2 separate regions of the Homo sapiens genome follow, and region 2 is linked to region 1. A link means that fine-mapping ties the variant in region 1 to the expression of a gene that starts in the linked region. Tissue or cell type: whole blood. Region 1 holds a variant in brackets; the other region holds the start of a gene. All regions are shown on one strand. Distances are from middle to middle.

What was found. PIP is the estimated chance that this variant, and not a neighbour inherited with it, causes the effect.
Region 2: MTHFS starts here. The variant in region 1 is fine-mapped to the expression of MTHFS in whole blood (INTERVAL, PIP 0.97).

What each region holds. Positions count from the first base shown.
Region 1 is chr15:79,822,416-79,833,760 of GRCh38, forward strand. It overlaps LOC124903536 (a long non-coding RNA gene), which reads right to left. Exons shown (of 2, transcript XR_007064730.1): 1 at 11,111-11,345; 2 at 1,637-10,560. Among named protein-coding and RNA genes, the nearest start is that of MTHFS, 69 kb to the right of the region's middle. The variant C/T (reference allele first, on the strand shown) is at 6,403.
Region 2 is chr15:79,894,298-79,901,013 of GRCh38, forward strand. MTHFS (methenyltetrahydrofolate synthetase) reads right to left here and starts at 2,717. Exons shown (of 3, transcript NM_006441.4): 1 at 2,575-2,717. The coding sequence starts at 2,691. The region is part of intron 2 of ST20-MTHFS (ST20-MTHFS readthrough); the gene reads right to left. ST20 (suppressor of tumorigenicity 20) reads right to left here. Exons shown (of 3, transcript NR_037653.2): 3 at 4,545-4,828. RefSeq lists a silencer at 2,726-3,025 and an enhancer at 3,166-3,215.

The DNA.
Region 1 (11,345 bases):
ATAGATGGGGTTAGTAGCAACTGCACGTGTATCTCAGGATTTAAGTTACATGTATCAAAGGGGGAGTGTGAAGCAGCCAAGAGAAGAGCAGATGTTACTTCAAGACAAAAAGGGGTTTTCTATCCTCTTCTTGGGAAAGGGTGAACACATGTTTGGCTGTATGTGCATTGGTTGTGTCATGTTGTGCAGAAGCATGACTTTGCTCGTCTTTATTTGGAGAGTATGGTTGAAGGTGATCCATGTGAGTGTCAAGTTGACAGAAGTGGAGCACAGTGACTTTCTAATGTGACAACTTGGTTAAGATGAACTACATTTCCCAGGACTCCCTCTCCTGTAGGTTTCCCATTGGGGCAGGTCCCAAGGGAGATCCTTAAGGGAGATTTGGAGAGAAGAGAAGCAGCAGCCTTTTGCTTCCACACGCTGCCACTGATCTCACTCGCAGCCAGGCCTGCAACTGCTCCATCTTCCCCTGCATCATGCTTCAGCTTCTCCAACTCCCAGGCCAGGAATATACGCTTGGCTGCAGGATGAGGGGCCCTGGCTTTTGTAGAACACCTATACCATCAAGGTCAGAGGCAAAAGAAGCAACCCGGGGCCCAGTCCATCCCATGGTCTCCAACTTGTGCTTGGGGGTTCCAGCATGCTCTCGCTCTCCTCTGCTTCACATCCATCTTCTCTACCCAACAACCTGGTATGTGGACTTCAAGCTCTAGCACAAGATGCAAAAGCCAAATTCCTCTAACAAATCCTATAACAAAACCTAATATATATTAATACACGCAGGACCTCCCAGTGGTTCTGCTTCTCTGATTGAACCCTGATTGATACACCAAGTAGCTACTAAATGCAAGGTACACTTGAAGTGGTGGCAAAGAGGAACAGGCATAAAACCATAAGCCCACGTTATGATGGAAGGAAAATTGGCTCAAATTGCTCAAATAAAATGGAACAAGAGGATAAAGGCTACAATACAGGCATAAACAATGTGTTCCAGGGGCATGGAAGAAGCAAACACTTTGGAGATAGCCAGACCTGAATTATAATCCTGGCACCACCCAACACCAGCTGCGTGACCTTGGTAAATGTCACCCAGGAGTTGTCTGCTCCTTCCACTTTCCTCTCTCTGAAAGGGAACTTCTGGGAAACAGAGATTGTTTCTGACAGCAGGGAACATGTCAGGAAAGGTTTTATATTAAAGGCTGTCACGTTTCACCTTGCAGGAGCGTGGTTCGGCATAGCATTTTTCCATCTTGTGCAGAAGGAGTTAATGCATTTTGGTGGGATAGTGTGGGAAAAGGTCATCCTGCAAATATTCAAAAGCAATTTCATGAAACAGTGGGCTCTCATCCATCTGCTGTAACAAACTGGCTGGGCGCTGTGGAGCCTTAAGCACTATACATTCAGCGAAATTATGACTCCCACTAGGGATATATCATATTTTTTTCAAGGCTGAAATGAAAAGATATACAGTGTACTGTATACATAGGCCTATTATGCTGGGGAAAATATCAGAACTAGTTTTTGCTGTTTATGGAAGATCAATGATAAATCAACCTGTATAATCTGCAACTGACTGTTTCATTTGTTCTTTAATGTTCCACTGATCTTTTGGAAATGAAGGAACTTCACATAAAACATGTAGTTTGATGAACTTTAATCTTACCCATAATTGGATAACAAAATTGGGTACGTGGAGTAATTAAAAGGATTGTGATAAAAGAGTCGATCTGCAGTTTCACATTGAGCTTCTTCCATAAACCAAGGAGTTCAGTTCAGGGCATATTAGGAAACAAAAAACAGCCCCGTGGGCTAGAAAGCTACATTTTTATTGTTGTTGTTAGAGGGAAAGGTATTTACGGAGAAGATAGACCATGTCAGTGAGGGCTAATATTATCACCTAGGGAGCTCTGAGATAAGGACATCAGTTTTAAAGATTAGGCTTCGACCTGCTAGTGAGCAGGAAGTTAACTGCTCGATTTTTCCTTAAGTGAGGTCATTTTTCCAGACTATCTTTAGATTGGTCCATCTATTACACATTTTCCATTGTTGTCGGTTTTACAGAAATGCAGACTTGCAATTTGCACGTAAGCCTGCACGTGCCTAATCCTTGTTTCTGGGCTCTCCAGTAGTGCCTGTCATGCCTGCTCACAACCTTAAAAACGTCTCTCCTTTGCCCAGCTAAGCCCTGCTGGGCTGGCTCCCCACTCTTTTCTTGAGGCCTCCAAGTCCTGGTATCTGACCTCCAGGACCCTGAGCTGAACCTCCAGCAAAGCTACCACTCCTAGAGCATCCCCTCAACCTGGAGCAGTTCTCTCAATCACTGTTTTCTGGCTTTTTCAACACTTCTCCTAGGCCTGTTCCGGTCCCGCCTTGACCTGCTCCCAACCTCCCCATCCTCAACTACTAACTGACCCCAGACCCAACCTTGTGGATCATCTGCCCTCCAGACCAGCTGTAACTCAGCCACTGCACCAGGTCATTAGCCAGGCTACTCTAGTTCCTTCAAATGCTTGCCTTCCAATAACCCTTAAGAAGCTTTTCTTTGTATCACAGTACATGAAAATAAGGTTAGTTTCTCCATTGGAGAGGAGCCAGCAGGGGTGAGAAAGGGTTCCAGAGACGAGGGTCAGAACTGCACTCTAGTCCTACCACTGGTAGCTGGAAAAAGAACCTAATTTGGAGATACCGAATTATCAAGTGATAGTAAAATAGCCAACAGCCCACAAAGTGCTGATCTACAAGGCACAGATGTGAGATCAAAGTAAAACAATGGTTAGCAAAGGGACTGGTAAAGCACTGAACAGACATGAATGCTGCTACGCGTGGCCAGATCTGCTTTATAGATGAGGAAACTGCCCATCAAAAGAGCCAAGGTGACCCGTCCAAAGCCTCACAGAGAACAAGAGGCAAATTCAGGACTAGAATGCAGGCCAGTCTTCCTACATGCTAGGAATCAGTATTTTTGTTTTCTTCTTCTCTTTTTTAATAATCATATTACTTAGATTTTTGTGTATGATAAAACACACAAGACAGACATGGTAACATTTTGCATCCATTGATCTTTTTTCTATGCTGGTTCCTCCCCACCAAAATACAATTATTGTGATACACTGCTTTTATTTTATTTTTTTAAAAAAGAGCTTGGACATTCTTCCTCTTTAAATATTTGTGTATGATGTTTTTAATGACAACAGAGTGTACAACTGGCATGAATGTAGCAACCCCTTATTATTGTATGGTTGTATTTCACTGGGTAGCAGCAGTCATCACTATTACAATAAAACAGCCTCATGCTGAATATACTTGTATAGAACTTTTGCAAATCGCATACATTATTTCACTGGGATGAATTCCTGAAAGTAGAATGACAGGGTCAAAAGTCATAGAAAATTATAAGATTTTTGTTATATTCTGCCAACTTTCTCTCCAGAAAGACTAAAAAACATACACTCTCCCAGCAGTATGAGTGTCCATTTCCCTGCATCATAGCCCAAACTTAACTGGTTTGATTATTTTTTACTACTCACATGGTTTCAGCTTGCATTTCTTTGATGAAATGTGAAATTAAATAGTTCTTATATTTGTGGCTATCTGTGTCTCCTCTTGTGTGAATTACCTGTTTATGTCCTTTGCCCCTTTACCACTGGGCACACTTCATTGTTTTCCTACTGATTTGAGTAGCACTTACTGGGTAGCCACGGACTAGGACAACCATAGACCTCCAAAGTGGGAAGCATCCTCACATGAGCCAGAGAGAACCACAGGAACTGGTCTTGCTAGATAGCCCTGAGAAAAGGAATTGGACCATTTTGCCCTCCTGCATGAGCTCCACTTCTGCTGACAGCTGGTCCTGGAGAAGGCTGAAGCAGTTGAGGGAGGGTCCACAACAGGACACTACTGCCTCTGTTCTGATTCTGGAACGGGGGAAAGAAGATTGGGGTGGAGGTGAGGAGAAGAGAAGGGAAGGACAAGAGAAGAAAAGGAGAAAAGGAGGTGGGTGAGAGACGAAGGGGAGGGAGTTGGTGCAGGACAGTGGGGAATCCACTGGAGAGGAGCCAGCAGGGGTGAGAAAGGGTTCCAGAGACCAGGGTCAGAACTGCACTCTAGTCCTACCACTGGCAGCTGGAAAAGAACCTAATTTGGAGATACCCTCAAGCAGGCAAAGGAAACTTACATTAGTGGAGGGAGGAAGGGAAGGGGCAAGTGACTACTACAATTCCCAAGCCAAGTACCCTGGGCTTATACCTGATTCCCAGAATCCAAGTCCCTTTCCACAATATCCCTCTGCCTTCTGCATGAAAGCCATCGCAAATTAATGTACCTCTAAGAGGCAAATAACTTCCTCTTAGATTGAACTGCTAGCAAAAGACCAGTCATTTGTCATCTCTGATTAAAATGTCCATGGAAAAAATTAGAAATAATTCAGCAAAGAGAGCTACCACTCTCTCTTTGGAGAGAGTTACAGAATGCAAACTAAAGTCGAAGGTGGTGGTAAAGGCAGCATGCTGCCCCTCTGCATATCAGAATAACCAGGCTCCTTCCTGCCACTATATATACAGGGTTCATTGGGTGGGTGGGGTCACTAGGGTCACCAGAATATGCAACCAGAGCAAGAAGGACTCTAAAGAGCCACTTATTCAGTGCTTCTCAAGTGTGCCTTTGTCAGAAGCACTTGCTAGCACAACAAATCAGTCTTTTTTTTCTGGAAATTCTGGTTCAGTACATCTAGGATAGGACCAGAAAAATCAACATTTTTAAACAACAGACTAAGGTGGTTCTTATGATGTGGCAAGGAGTTGATTTTGTCCAGTGCATCTTACATTCAAATCACCCAAAGAGATTAAAAACCACTATCAGGGAGTTCCATTTCTGCCTTTGATAGGCTAATATATTCAGATCAACTCTACTACCAAGAACAAATAGAAATGCCCTGTTTGAACGCATCAGAGAGCTATCAAATGTGGTGAGGTCTTACGGCACCAAGATCTCAGAGAGAAAGAAAGCACAGAACTGAACCTGATATTTGGCACAGCTTTTTGCCTCAAAGCATTTGTTGATTCTTAAGAAAAACTTAAAAGCTGAGAAGTTGTGCTTTGTAGAAACTGATCAGTGAAGAAGCCAAGAGGAGAAATGAAGTAGAAACTGGCAGCCAGGAGTCTACAAAGCTAAGCAGAGCTTTGCTGCCCCACCATCCTGGGGAAACAAAAATAGTGCAGCCATCACCAAAAAGGAGCGGCCCTGGTATGCAACCCAAGCTTTCAGAAGGAACTCCTGAAGCCTGGGAATAAGGACTAACCCAAATAAGCCAGTATTCACAAAAACTAAAGACTGGCTTCAAATCTGCTCAATCCCAGACTGGATTATAACAATCTGCCCCTATCTTGACTTCCAAAAGCAGAAAGAAGTAAATGCTCTAAGGGGAAAATAGCATCATCCAGAGGCTCAAATTCTCTCTTCAGTTTTTCATACACAATGCCTGACATTCAATAAAAAGTTACAAAAACAAGACCAGGTGTGGTGGCGCTCATGTCTGTAATACCAGCAGTTTGGGAGGCGAGGCGGGCAGATCACGAGGCCAGGAGATCAAGACCATCCTGGATAACGTGGTGAAACCCCGTCTCTACTAAAAATACAAAAAAAAAAAAAATTAGCCAGGAGTGGTGGCATGTGCCTGTAGGCCCAGATACTTGGGAGGCTGAGGCAGGAAAATCGCTTGAATGCAGGAGGTGGAGGTTGCAGTGAGCCAAGAGATCACGCCACTGCACTCCAGCCTGGGCAACAGAGTGAGACTCCATCTCAAAAAAAAAAAACAAACTTTTTTTAAATAAATGAATTATGAAGCATATTGGGAGATGTGCAAGGCCAGAAACCAAGAGAAAAAATAGACATAGAAAGAAAAAGCTCTAAGGAGACTCTGATGTTGGAATGATCACACAAAGACTTTCAAAATAACTGATTAATATGTCCAAGAAATTAATTTTAGCAAAGAGTTAAAATCTATTTTAAAAAATCAAATGAAAATTCTAGAACTGAAAAATACAATAATTAAAACTAAGAACTAAATAGATGGGTTTAATAGCAAACTAGACACAGCTGATAAAAAGATTAGTGAATTCAGAGATAGGTCAATAGAAAATATCCACACTGAAAGAATGAGAGGAAAAAATGAATGGAAAATACAGGTGGTAGTAGAGGGGCATGTATGGGACATAATGGGACATGGCAAGCAGGTCCAACATACATGTACTTGGAGTCCTGGAGAGGAAAACAACAAATGGGTCAGAAACAATTTTTACAGACATGATGACTGAGAATTTTCCAACACTGACAAAAGGTATCAAATCACAGATTCTAGAAGTGTTATGAACCCTAGAGGAGTTCAAAGAAAACCACATTTAGGCA[C/T]ATGTAGTAAAACTGCTAAAAAACAAAAACAAATGGGAAAATCTTAAAAACAACCAAAGTTAAAAAGTAAATCAATTTTTAATTTATTAATCCATTATTTACTTTCATTATGTATTAATGGTCAATTATATCAGAATCTCTGAGAGTTAGGCCAGGGCATGGGGCAAGTGGAGAGGGCTTTTTACAAATATACATTCTAGAGCACCATTAGAGATTGTGATTGAGCCAACTTGGGGCAAGGCCCATGAATCAACATTTTCAGCCATCAACAATGGAGTTGATTCTGATGTAGAAGTTCACAAACTACACTTCCTCAAACGTAGCTCTGTCCTTATCCCTTTATAACTAAGGAAACAGAGGCCCATCCAGGTAAGACTGAGGTCAGCTCAAGGTTATACTGTGAATCAATGGCAGGGCCACAGATAGCACATTGTACAGTCACATGGCAATTCCAAGAAGCAACTCTTCTAACCTGGTACCTACAGGCATCCTAGTCCACAGCAAGGAAGGCAGGGGTCCCAAGTGCCTGTAAGGATTCTTAGCCACAGGAAAGATATCAGGAAGGGATTGAAAATACTTGCTCACCTCTACAGGACAGGCATGTGTGAGGCACTTTTACAAATTCCTTTTGATTCCAAAAGTGGGCCCAACTCTATACCATTTATCCAACTTACTATACTGTATTAAATGCTTGATCCATTATCTCTTTTAACCTTTACCACAAACCTATGAGGTAGATATTATTATCATTCCTCATTTTATAGAGGCACAGAGAAGTTAAGTGACATATACAGGGTCACACAGATAAGTGGGGGAGTCAGGAAATGAACCTATTTAGAGTATACATTACTCCTCCGTTCTACTGCCCAAACCTGACTCCCCTATCCCCACCCACCCACCAATTCTCACACACTTACCCTGCAGGTCAAAGGGTGGCTTCTTTAACATCTCCGGCTCTAGACTGTTTTTGGTGATGGGATAAGCCCAATGGAGCAAAAGGAGAACAGGAACTGGAACTGGACCCCTAGGTAATCACCCTAGCACCGCCACTCCACTCTGTGGATTCACCAAAGTTCCTTCCCTCCTGTGGAGGTCAATTTCTTCATTTGGAAAAGAGGGTTTTCATACCTATCTCATGATTGTGGTGAGATTAAATACCTTTGAAAGCCTTTCACTACTCCAAATGTGAGCTCCAGAGTGTGGCTGACATGGGAGGGGATAAGTGTGGGCTCTACTGTTCTTGGAAAGACCTAGGCACTGTGTCCCATAGTGGCTGGCTGCACCGTGGACGGCTCCCGAGAAGCTGGGAGGCTCAGTCTACAGAGTGACGCTGTGCTGCCGGCCCGCAGTGTGCCGCAGTGTTCATTTCCGCGAGAGCCTACGCCTTTACGAGGTGAGCTCATGCTCTGTCCACTATCCGCACAGCCGACAATTCCCACGTTATTAAATGGCTCACCTGGCTGCACTTATTTTATAAAATAGCATGAGCAGCCATGCAGTTATCTATAGGTTTTTCAGTAAACTTGGAAATCTGATCATCTCAGTCTCTGAAATTTCCCTTCTGGTGGCTGATGTTGATGAGATTTTTTTTTCCTACTTTTATCTAGGCTTTAATAAAAGGCTGATAGATTAAATGGTATGAAAAAAATGCTTTTTTACAAGTGATAATAATACAGACAGGGGTAATTCTGCGCAAAACTGTCAAGAGAATAAAATGAGGTATGGAACTCTCCCCTCTCCTTTTGTTACCTTTCATCTCCATGGCGGTTGGGGGCTGTGACCCACCTTCACCCCTGCTGCAGCTGCCCTGAGCTCAGCATCCTCAGGTGATTTTCTATGATATTTGGAAATCTTTTATAGCCCCTTTGCCCCTAGAAGAAAACTCCTATTGTGCTGCCTTCTACCAAATAACATGTTGGGGGTTTAGTAATCACATGACAAAGATCTTTCCTCTGCAGACAGGCCTATATCCCTGGGGTTCAAGGGGAAGGATTAGAGAGGAAAAGAGGGGAAGGTCGAGGCGGAGGTCAGGGATGAGCAATAAGAAGAGAGGAGGAAGAAGAGACAGAAGGATAAAGGGAGACAGGAAGAGGAAGATGGGTATGGAGGGGGAGAAGGGGGATGTGTAGTGGTTGGAACATCTGCAGAGACTGAAAAAGCAAGAAATGTAACAACTTGGTGAAGACACAAAGGCTTGTAAGGAAACCAAGAGAAAAGCCAGGTTTGGGGAAAATGTCAGAGTCCAACAGAATAGACTAGCCAGCTGGGGATGGGTTGAGTCTTGGGGCTTCATAACCAGAGAGAATTAAGCCTAAAGGGCATGCCTAAGCTAACAGAGACCCCATTGGGCCCAGCCTTCCTTGGAAGGAGCTGATTACTGCAGACCTGACCTGAAGGGCTGAGCTAAAGCAGCTGCTCTTGCCCTGGCCCAGGGTGTCCTGGTGGGAGGCAAGGTGAGGCCTTTGTGGCAGCCTCTTTGGCCATGTGAGGACGGCCTGGTCTAGCAAGCGGGTATAGGTCCTGCAGGGGAGACCAACGCTAAGCACCACAGGAAAGGAGCCCTATTCCCAGCCTTCCTGGTACGGGCCCAGTGACTGCCCCTTCAAATCTGTCACATTCCCATAGAAGCCTTTGTAGACTCAGGTACATGAGGTAACTCAAGCAACCAGGCCCAACGTGAGCTGGAAGCTTCAGGACCCCTGTGAGGGCTGGAGAAGAGAGCCAGGAGTCCTCCCCTTCCCCTGCACTCCAAATGAGGAGCAGGTAAAGGGCACTGAAAAGAACATGGGCTTTCAGATCAGAGGACACTTAGTTCCTTGGTTCAAATCCCAAGCCAGCACATCCTTGGAAGATGGCCTTGGCCTCAGTTTCATCTTCTATAAAATCAGGACAGTGATACTTCATAGTGTTGTGAAACTAGATATGCTAATATATGTAAATATATGGAAAGTAGTTGTTCCACACTTCCTCTTCCCCAGCTCCATGTGAGCACATGGAAGGACTTTGGCCAGAGCGACACACCTGTCCTTTCACTCCTCCTCCCCTCACTCCTCCTCACTCTGGGTGGTGAGTTACACAGAAGGAGCAGAGCATGTTAGATTCAGCCCCATCTGGTTTCTTTATTTTGGATCTGACCCCCCACAGGAAGAGTGCTCTTTCTTCAATACCACCTGTATTTTCCATTCATTTTTTCCTCTCATTCTTTCAGTGTGGACATGCCATGTGCTGAGCTCCTGCCCTAATGAGAAAGCCTACGGTGTCTGGCCAGTTCTTCTCGTGAATGGTTGGAGAATGGATGTCTCTGATGTAGGAGTCTAGTACTAGGAAGCTGTATACCCAGGCTACATCCACCAATCCATTATTAATCAAGCTGATCTTTCGACCTAGCCCCATATGACCCCTGTGTCTGTCAGGTGGTTCTGAACTCAGGGGAGGAAGAGTGATATTTGGTGGCTTTCTGATACATAGAAAGTACTCATTAGTACCAGCTACATATGCATCCCCAGAGGCAGGGTCCTTCCACTAAATCTTCTGGTGACTCTCAGTCCACCTGAAGGGACACTTATCCCCCTATATAAAGTAACCCCAAATGAGCAAGAATTGGTCAGCAAGCCATAGTCTTCCATTTCAGTTGTATGATGGACCTTGGGAAAAACAAGAGTTTTATTTCTAACTTGCCTCTGTCCCAGAATCTTGACACCACTCTGCTCTTTGTCAATGTGTGATCTTAAATGAGCCACCACATCCTCTGCTTAGAGCTCCCATCCTCAACCCACATATTTATTTGACTTCCTCCAAGAAAACTTCAGATACCATGGTCTGGAAGACACAGGTTGCTTCTCTTTCCTCTCCACTACCCCAGGTAGTTCTAATCACAGGGCCCTGATTCCCAACCCAAACAAGGCCAATCAGAGGCTCCCTTCCAGGGATTTAAATATTGAGCAGAGATACCCTGGTGGTACCCTAAGAGGTTTAAAAGTTTCTACCACTAAGATTTCTGGGGCTCCCCTGCTTTGTGTCCTTCCTGCTGCCTATGTTTAGTTTGATTTTGCAAACTCCCCAGTATCATTCTGTTGTAGTTCAAGTTCCCCAGGAAACAGATTGAGCTGGTGATTTGTGTGCAGAAAGATTACTGGAAAGTGCTCTCAGCAACAACACCTGTGAGGGAGGAAAGGAAGCAGGATTGAGCAGAGACTAGGACCTGAAATGAAACTGTGCACTGCACATAGGCCTCAGCCAATTCCTGGGGAGCTGGAGCTAGGATGGCCCTTCAGAGGTGTCCTGCCTTGAAGCAACGAAGGCTTTGCACCTCCAAAATGACCAGGTATTGGGTATAGGCTGCCATCAAGAAGGGGCTGTAACCTTGGGCAAGGTGGCCCTCCTTAGCCAAGGACAATTGCAGGGGAGGCCTCAGCTCAGAGCTACCTGCCGCCAACATCCTGGGAGCTGGAGGAGAGCATACCTCAGTCCTAATGAGGAATTGGGAGGCATGCCACAGCATCTAGTCCTCCTTCCAATAGCTCGCTTTTTTCTTACTTTAGTCTTTGCTTGAAGCAAAGAACCATAACTGATATACAAAGCAATCTTAGACTATAGACTCCAATTTACCTCCTGCTCTTAGAGACCCTCTTCAACATCTAAATCAAGGTTTATCTGTCCACCTCAAATTACCCCCCATTCAAAAACCAGAACAAGAACAAGAACTCACATCAACAGGAATGCTGTGCGAGCTGTTAAGCAGTGTGGGGTTCTGCTTGGCAATCAGTCTATGACTGTCAGCTCTTCATTTCCAGTAATGATGTACAGAAGGATGTTAGATGGGACTTCTCCTTTGGTCTAGAATTTTCCACAAAGCAAGGACAATAAATGACAAGTATCACCATATTCTAAAGAGAGGTAATGAACATGTTGTTTTAGACTGGGTCCCCAAAAAAGCAGTGCCT
Region 2 (6,716 bases), 70 kb after region 1:
TTGAACGTGGGAGGCAGAGGTTGCAGTGAGCCGAGATCATGCCACCGCACTCCAGCCTGGGCGACAGAGCAAGACTCTGTCTTGAAAAAAAAAGAAAATATTAAATTTCATTGTATGTGCTTAAGAGCTGTAAAATGTTCCTTGTATGTGTATATTTGTTTGTACAGAGTAAAATGTATTTATTACTGAGGGTCATGGGTCTGCTTTTTAATTTTTCTCTCTCCTCCTTTAATGCCAGCTCTCAGTCGTCATTCTATTGCTGTCAGTGACTCTGTATCTATGTAAACTATTTCCATCTATAGTTTATGAATTCTAATCTTCTACGGAGAAAGACAACGTAGAAGATTAGAAACTGAATTCATCTTTATTTTCCCCATGCCCCTCCAAAATTTGTTCCAATTCCTACCTTCTTTATGCCTAAGGCTAAACACCATTATACCAAGCTCTAAATTTTGGAATCACTGGTGACTCTCCTCCCCTTCCAGTATTCTCTAACCTCTTCCAATCAGTTGCCAAGTCCTGCTGTTTCTCACTTAACAGTCTCCCATTTGCCTCCTTTCCCCTCATCTTCACTGCCCATGCTCTGGTTTGCATATTTTTCATCTTTCACTTGAATTGGCACAACAGCCCCTTACTGGTCTCCATATTTTTTTTCTTTCTTCCTTCCTCAACCCATTATCCAAATGCTGCCATTATACTCTTCCTAAAGGACATAACAAACAATAGGTAAAGCTCTGAATACATCCCTTTACACACTTCTTTAACTCTCACAATCGACCTACAAGAGTGATATTATCCATTTTATAGACAAGGAACCAAAGGTTCTGAGAGATTATGAGACCTGTCCAAGGATATACAGTTAAAAAACAATGGCGCCAGATTCAGCCCAGATCTGTGCAGTTCCAAAGCCCATGCTAAACTGTATCCTGTCATCTCTTGCCTAAATATCCCTACTCACACTCCCCTATCCCATCTTTCCCTTCACCTGAAAGAATTCATCTTGTTCTCCGAAATTCATCTCAAACATTTTCCAATAGAAAGCTTTCCAATTTCCCCTCCCCAAGGCTATGTTTCCACAACATTGGTGTTTACCTTTATCATATATCTGGCTTCAATGCAATTCTTTATTCATGTCTGTTTCCTCTTCTAGGCTCTCTGCTCCTTTAGAGCAACAATCATATCTTTTTCATCTCCACAACCCAGTATATAGCCAAGTGTGCACTACATAGGTGTTCAACATATGTGAATGAATTAGCTAAATTTTAAACAACTAGATAGTAAGGACAAGAGTCTATATCCTTTACATCTACTAAAACACCCAGCAATGCTTCCTCATAATAGCTAAAATAATTCTGTTTGAACGAACGAATTAACATCTGTATAGATTCCCTCATACACACCTACATAGATGAAGAGAGGGGTGAAATGAGCATATATGCTTTACTGCTTTAACCCATAGGCACCTTGAATTTGAGTAAATAACGGATAATAGAATAGTGAAGGGTAATTAAGAAAGCCTGATGGTATAACTAATTCCAAGGAACATCAAGTTTCCAAATATCTGGTGTCTCTGAAGCATGATGCTGGGAAGACAGATCATCAGTTTGACTTACAACAGAATTACAAATACGTACTTATTCAGGGGACATTAAATTTTTCTTCCTCTGGTGTCTAACAAAAATGAGTCCCCAAAAACTCTTTAGAACATGCCTTCACAACAGGATATGACTGCCATTTTATTGATAAGAAAACTGACATTACATAGACTAAAAATACATAGCAGTGCAGTTGGTGAAAGTAATGAAACAGAGGTCTGCTAACCAACAAACACGGACCCTCACTTATTCCTCTCATTTCTCTCTTCTGTTTCCTACGTTCTTGGGAAGCCTGGATATGATAGCCAAGTCTTCCTTTCGTTCACTCAAGAAAAAGCATTTAATGTTGACCAACTCTGAGACAGGAAAAGCCTAGGCCCTGGAGCTACTGAGACACAGCCTTAGCCCTCCATATGCTTAGTGAAGTCCAGTCAACCTCTGAGTTCTGCCCTTTGGCATCTCCACACCTTTTTTGGTGTTCCCTCGTCTAAAGCACCTGCATCTTTCTCTGGCCATTTTACTAATATAACCGGAGTCTTACTCGTAGCTCATTAACTTTAGGCCTCACTGAGGGAACCTGGGCACTCAGGTGTTCACCCATCTCCTCTACCACAACTTTCTGTTCTCACCGTGCTCTCACCACAGCACCGTCATCCCCACGGAGGGTTTTCGAGCACCAAAAGAGCCACCCATGCAAACAAACTCCCCTCCCAGAGATAAATCTGTCAACCCCTGCCGTCCTCTCGCTCTTTAGCCCCACAACTTTCACTACCGGGCCCTCTCCCCGCCATAGTGCCAAGAGCGTCCAGACCACGACTAGGGGGCGTGCGCGCGCCGGGAGGGGAAACGTGCGCGCGCCGGGGGGTGGGGGGGCGCCTAGCCCAGCGCCAGCACGGACCATGCACAGATCAGCAATCGCTGGCCGCCAGGCCTTCGGAGGGTCTGTCCGCCGCGGCTTCCGCTACGGGCGGCCTCGCACCTTCTGGCTCAGTACGCGGGACTGGCGTAGCCGCTCCTCGGCACTCATCGCCCGCAGACGCTGCTTCAGCTCTCCCCGCAGGCTCCGCTTGGCGCTGCTCACCGCTGCCGCCGCCATCTCACGCCCAAGCCGAGTCCAGTCCCGCCCTCGGCGCCCTGGGCGCCCTCGGGTTCGGTCTCCGCCCCTGGCCGCTCCCAGGTGGATCCGCGGCCTAGGGGCGGGTCGGGGCTCGGGGAAGCGCCCCCACCCCGCTTCCGGGACGCGGGCCCGCGGCGCGCCGCGCGCTTACCTCGCCTCTGGCCCTTGGGACCCAGCCCTCGTGCGGTCCCCGTGGTCCGGCTCGCCCTCCCCGGTTAGGGGAGCGGTGGCGAGGCGCCGTCGCTGCCCTGCCGCCTGACCTCCCTGAGCCTGGGCCCTCACCGGGACCGCGGAGGCGGCAGCGCCACTGGCGGGGATGGTAAAGATGGCCGGCAGTACCCACGGTGCCTGGCATCTCTTGTACTGTTCAGTAGTGGGACTTCAGGGGCCAGAAAAGAAGGGCAAGGCAGGACATGTAGCGAAATCGTCACGAGTCGCTTAACTACAGGGATAGGTCTGACAGATGCCCCGATTTCCTTCTTGTGCAAACATCAGAGTGTAGTTACACAAAGTTACTACACACCTATGCTACACACCTGTACAGCGTATTTTGTACCGAATACTGTAGGCAATTGTAAGCACCGTGATACTTGTGTATCTAAACACAGAAAAGGTAATGTGTTGGTTGGCTACCACATCAGTAGGTATTAGGAATTTTTCAGCTCCATTATAATCTTAAGGGACCACAGTGGTTGATGGAAATGTCCTTATGTGATGAATGTATAGATGATACATAATCGGGAACACTGCTAAAGCAATAACTGTAGTGTAAAAGCCAAATTTTGCGGGTTTCTAGTGTGAATGTATTCCAGGTAATAGTGCCCACATAGGTACTTCCTGTTATAACCATCAGTGACTGTTCATTCCCACCACTCAGCTCTGATTAAAACACAAAAATGAATTAAAACTAAAAGCAGTTGGGGGGTGGGTGAGGCACTTGCAGGAAGAGGTAAAAGAAACTGTTAAGTCTTAAACTGCTCCCAGTAGACAGGCGCCTCAGATGGCATAGACGGTTGCCTCTCAGATGTGACTTCCTAAGAAAACCAGAGCTGTCTCTGCCAAAAATACGTCCCTACTGACCGCCCCAGTGTCTTAATCCCCACCGTTAAGAATCACACCTCCTAGGTAAAGCATTAATTAAGTGCCCGGTGAGAATGCACATGGCTTGAGAGGGGAGTTCTGGCTTCTTTATGGAATCTATCAACAGCTTCCAGGGAAAGCTAATGCAAGTCCCAGGGGGACTGTGTTGTAAGAAAAAGGGAAGGCCAGGCAGGTACAGCGTATACATAGTGCAATTAGATTTGCTGACCTAAAAGTTAGAACACGAGGTCTAACAAACTACGTACTTTTCTAATCTGTTCATTTTTACCAAAAAATAAAAATTAAAATTAACACTAGCTCCACGTTGAATCATTTACCAATTTTCTTTGTTCAGAATATCCCAGAGTATCCTGCATATCAGGTTGCCATATCCATCAACCCCAAATGGCAAGCCAGAGAGAGAAGGCTGGGGAGGAGGCATCAATGGAAACTCTTAAGCAGCCAGGGGCACTGGAAACTGCAGAAAGCATGGGAAGGAAGGAGGGAAGAGGGAAGCCGACCTGAGTCTGCTTCTAGCCTGAGTCCGCTTCTCAGTCTAGTCTGCAGTCTAGCCTAGTGACACAGAAAAGGACTTTTGGGGTAATGGCACACCTTAAAAGTCTGCCTGGGGCAGAAAAGACACCGCCTTCCTGGTCATCATCCCATAATTAATTGCCTGGATCCTGTGTTGAGCTTTTACCCTTTGGCTGAATTTCCAGCCAGACTCCAAAACTGAAGACAAAAATGGCATATAGAGAAAAATACATACAATTTATTCATTAAATAGGGACAAAATTTCTGTAACTCTGGAAGGTCAAGTTACATCATCAAAGTTGTTTATTTAAAAGTAGAAGTATGTGTTGGCAATCGTTTTCGTAAGAGTCAGAAAAATTAGGCCGGTTTCACAATATGGAGTGTCCTTTCTGGTCAACAGTATTGCTTCAGGACAGAAGAGCATTTCACAGATCTTTCCTGTAACTTCTAGAAAAGTCATCCAGCCAGATTTAGGCTCAAGCTTCTTTACAAAGCCATTTTCCTATGAGAGAATAAATTTAACATTTTAAAAATCATTGGAGATTAAGTATGCTGGAATAAAAAGCAAAAATATTTTCATTTAAATAATGCAAATAATCTTCTATCCCTCTAAAGGAGCATTGTGTAACAGAAACACAGTGTGGCCTACATCTGTAATTTTAATTTTTGGTAGCCACATTTTAAAAAGTACAAAAATAGGAAAAATTAATTTTTAAGATATATTTAGTGATAATGATTTCTGTATGTAATCAATGTCAAATCACTAATGAGATAGTTTTTTTCATAACAAACCTTCAAAATCTCATGAGTATTTAGTACTTACAGCGTATCTTAATTCAGACTAGCCACATTTTACTACCATAGTGAACAGCAAGCACAGCTCTAGAGGATAAAAAGTCTTTTTGTTCTTGTTCTTGTTTAATTGTCCAACATTGATTTCAATGCACTTATATTTGTAATATGAATTCTATTATACTGTAAACTGCATTGTATTGAAACTCATGAGAACTCACAGTAAATCCAAATTAAACCAATACCTTTGAAGCTATGAAAAGGTTGATGGTTTCTTTTATAATCTACTCTCTTTGTGATCGGACATAGTTTTAAAAATGTAGGATAACCCAATTAACTGGACATTTTATTTAATTTACAATCTATAATCATAGAATCCTCACTGAAAAGTCCCTCTGAGATCATCTAGCCTAATGCTCTCTCTTAACAAATGAGGAAAGTGAGGCCCACAAAAAAAATCAGTTATCTAAGATTAGCCAAACCCTTGGTGCCTGGACCTGGATTAGAATGCAAATACCCTACTTCTTTCCACTCCATACATTTCCAAACAAGTGCCAAAATATTCGAAAATTGTTAAAATAATTTTTTCGAATGTTCATCTAGCAAACATTTGTGGCTGCATCTTACAGGTTCCAGAACCTGGGGTTACAAATGCCTGCAAGTAGCTCAGAGCAAAGTGTAACTAATATTGAAACGTAAACCAAGCATAACCCTTTGATAGTTGGGAGAGATTCGAGAGCTCTGCGGTGCCTTGGAATCATTTTATGAACATCACTGGCAAAGCAGATGAATACCACCAGCCAGGGGGATTTCATTTGAAAGACTTAGAAAGCCATTTTCTGCCTACGTAAGTGTGCGTCGTGCTCTGAGACATGCTGTCATGCCTTGACAGAGGAAGGAAACTGCCCCTCTTCTTCCTCTTTCCCTTCTGCCAGTACATACTCATAGATTACACTCTAGGGAGGTATCCACTTCATTACGCCCCTTCCTAAACACCATATTTCGCAAGTATGATGAGACCCTCTGAAATGACTTTTATTATAACGATAATCATTGTCTATTATCATTGATCAGTTAACATGTCATATACATCAACGTCTAAAGAAAGGACAGTGAACAAAGAAAATATTGATAAATTCAGCCAGATGAAGATTAAAAATTTTTTTAACTATGAAAAACTAAAAAGAACAATAAACTAGGAAAATATTTACATATACCATGAAAGTGTTCATTCAAATGTGAGAGAAAATTCTCAGGCCCTTAATAGTTTAAAAAGGAGAGACCATTAAACAGAGAAATATAAATCATTCACAAGTATATGAGAAAAACATTAATAGCAGTTAAAGAAATGTACATTTTAACAAAGTCTTATTTTTTTTAGACCTATTAAAGTGGCTTTATTTGATGCCTATTAAACCCTCAAAATTATTAATAGTACCACCCACACTGATAAGGTTGCTATGATATTGTTCTATTGATATAATACTTTCGAAAAGAAAATATGTTTTCCAGTATGCTAGAATATCGTAATTATACACACATCTTATGAACCAGTTACTCCACTGTTAGAAATTTATCATGAGGCAGTCTTCTAAAAT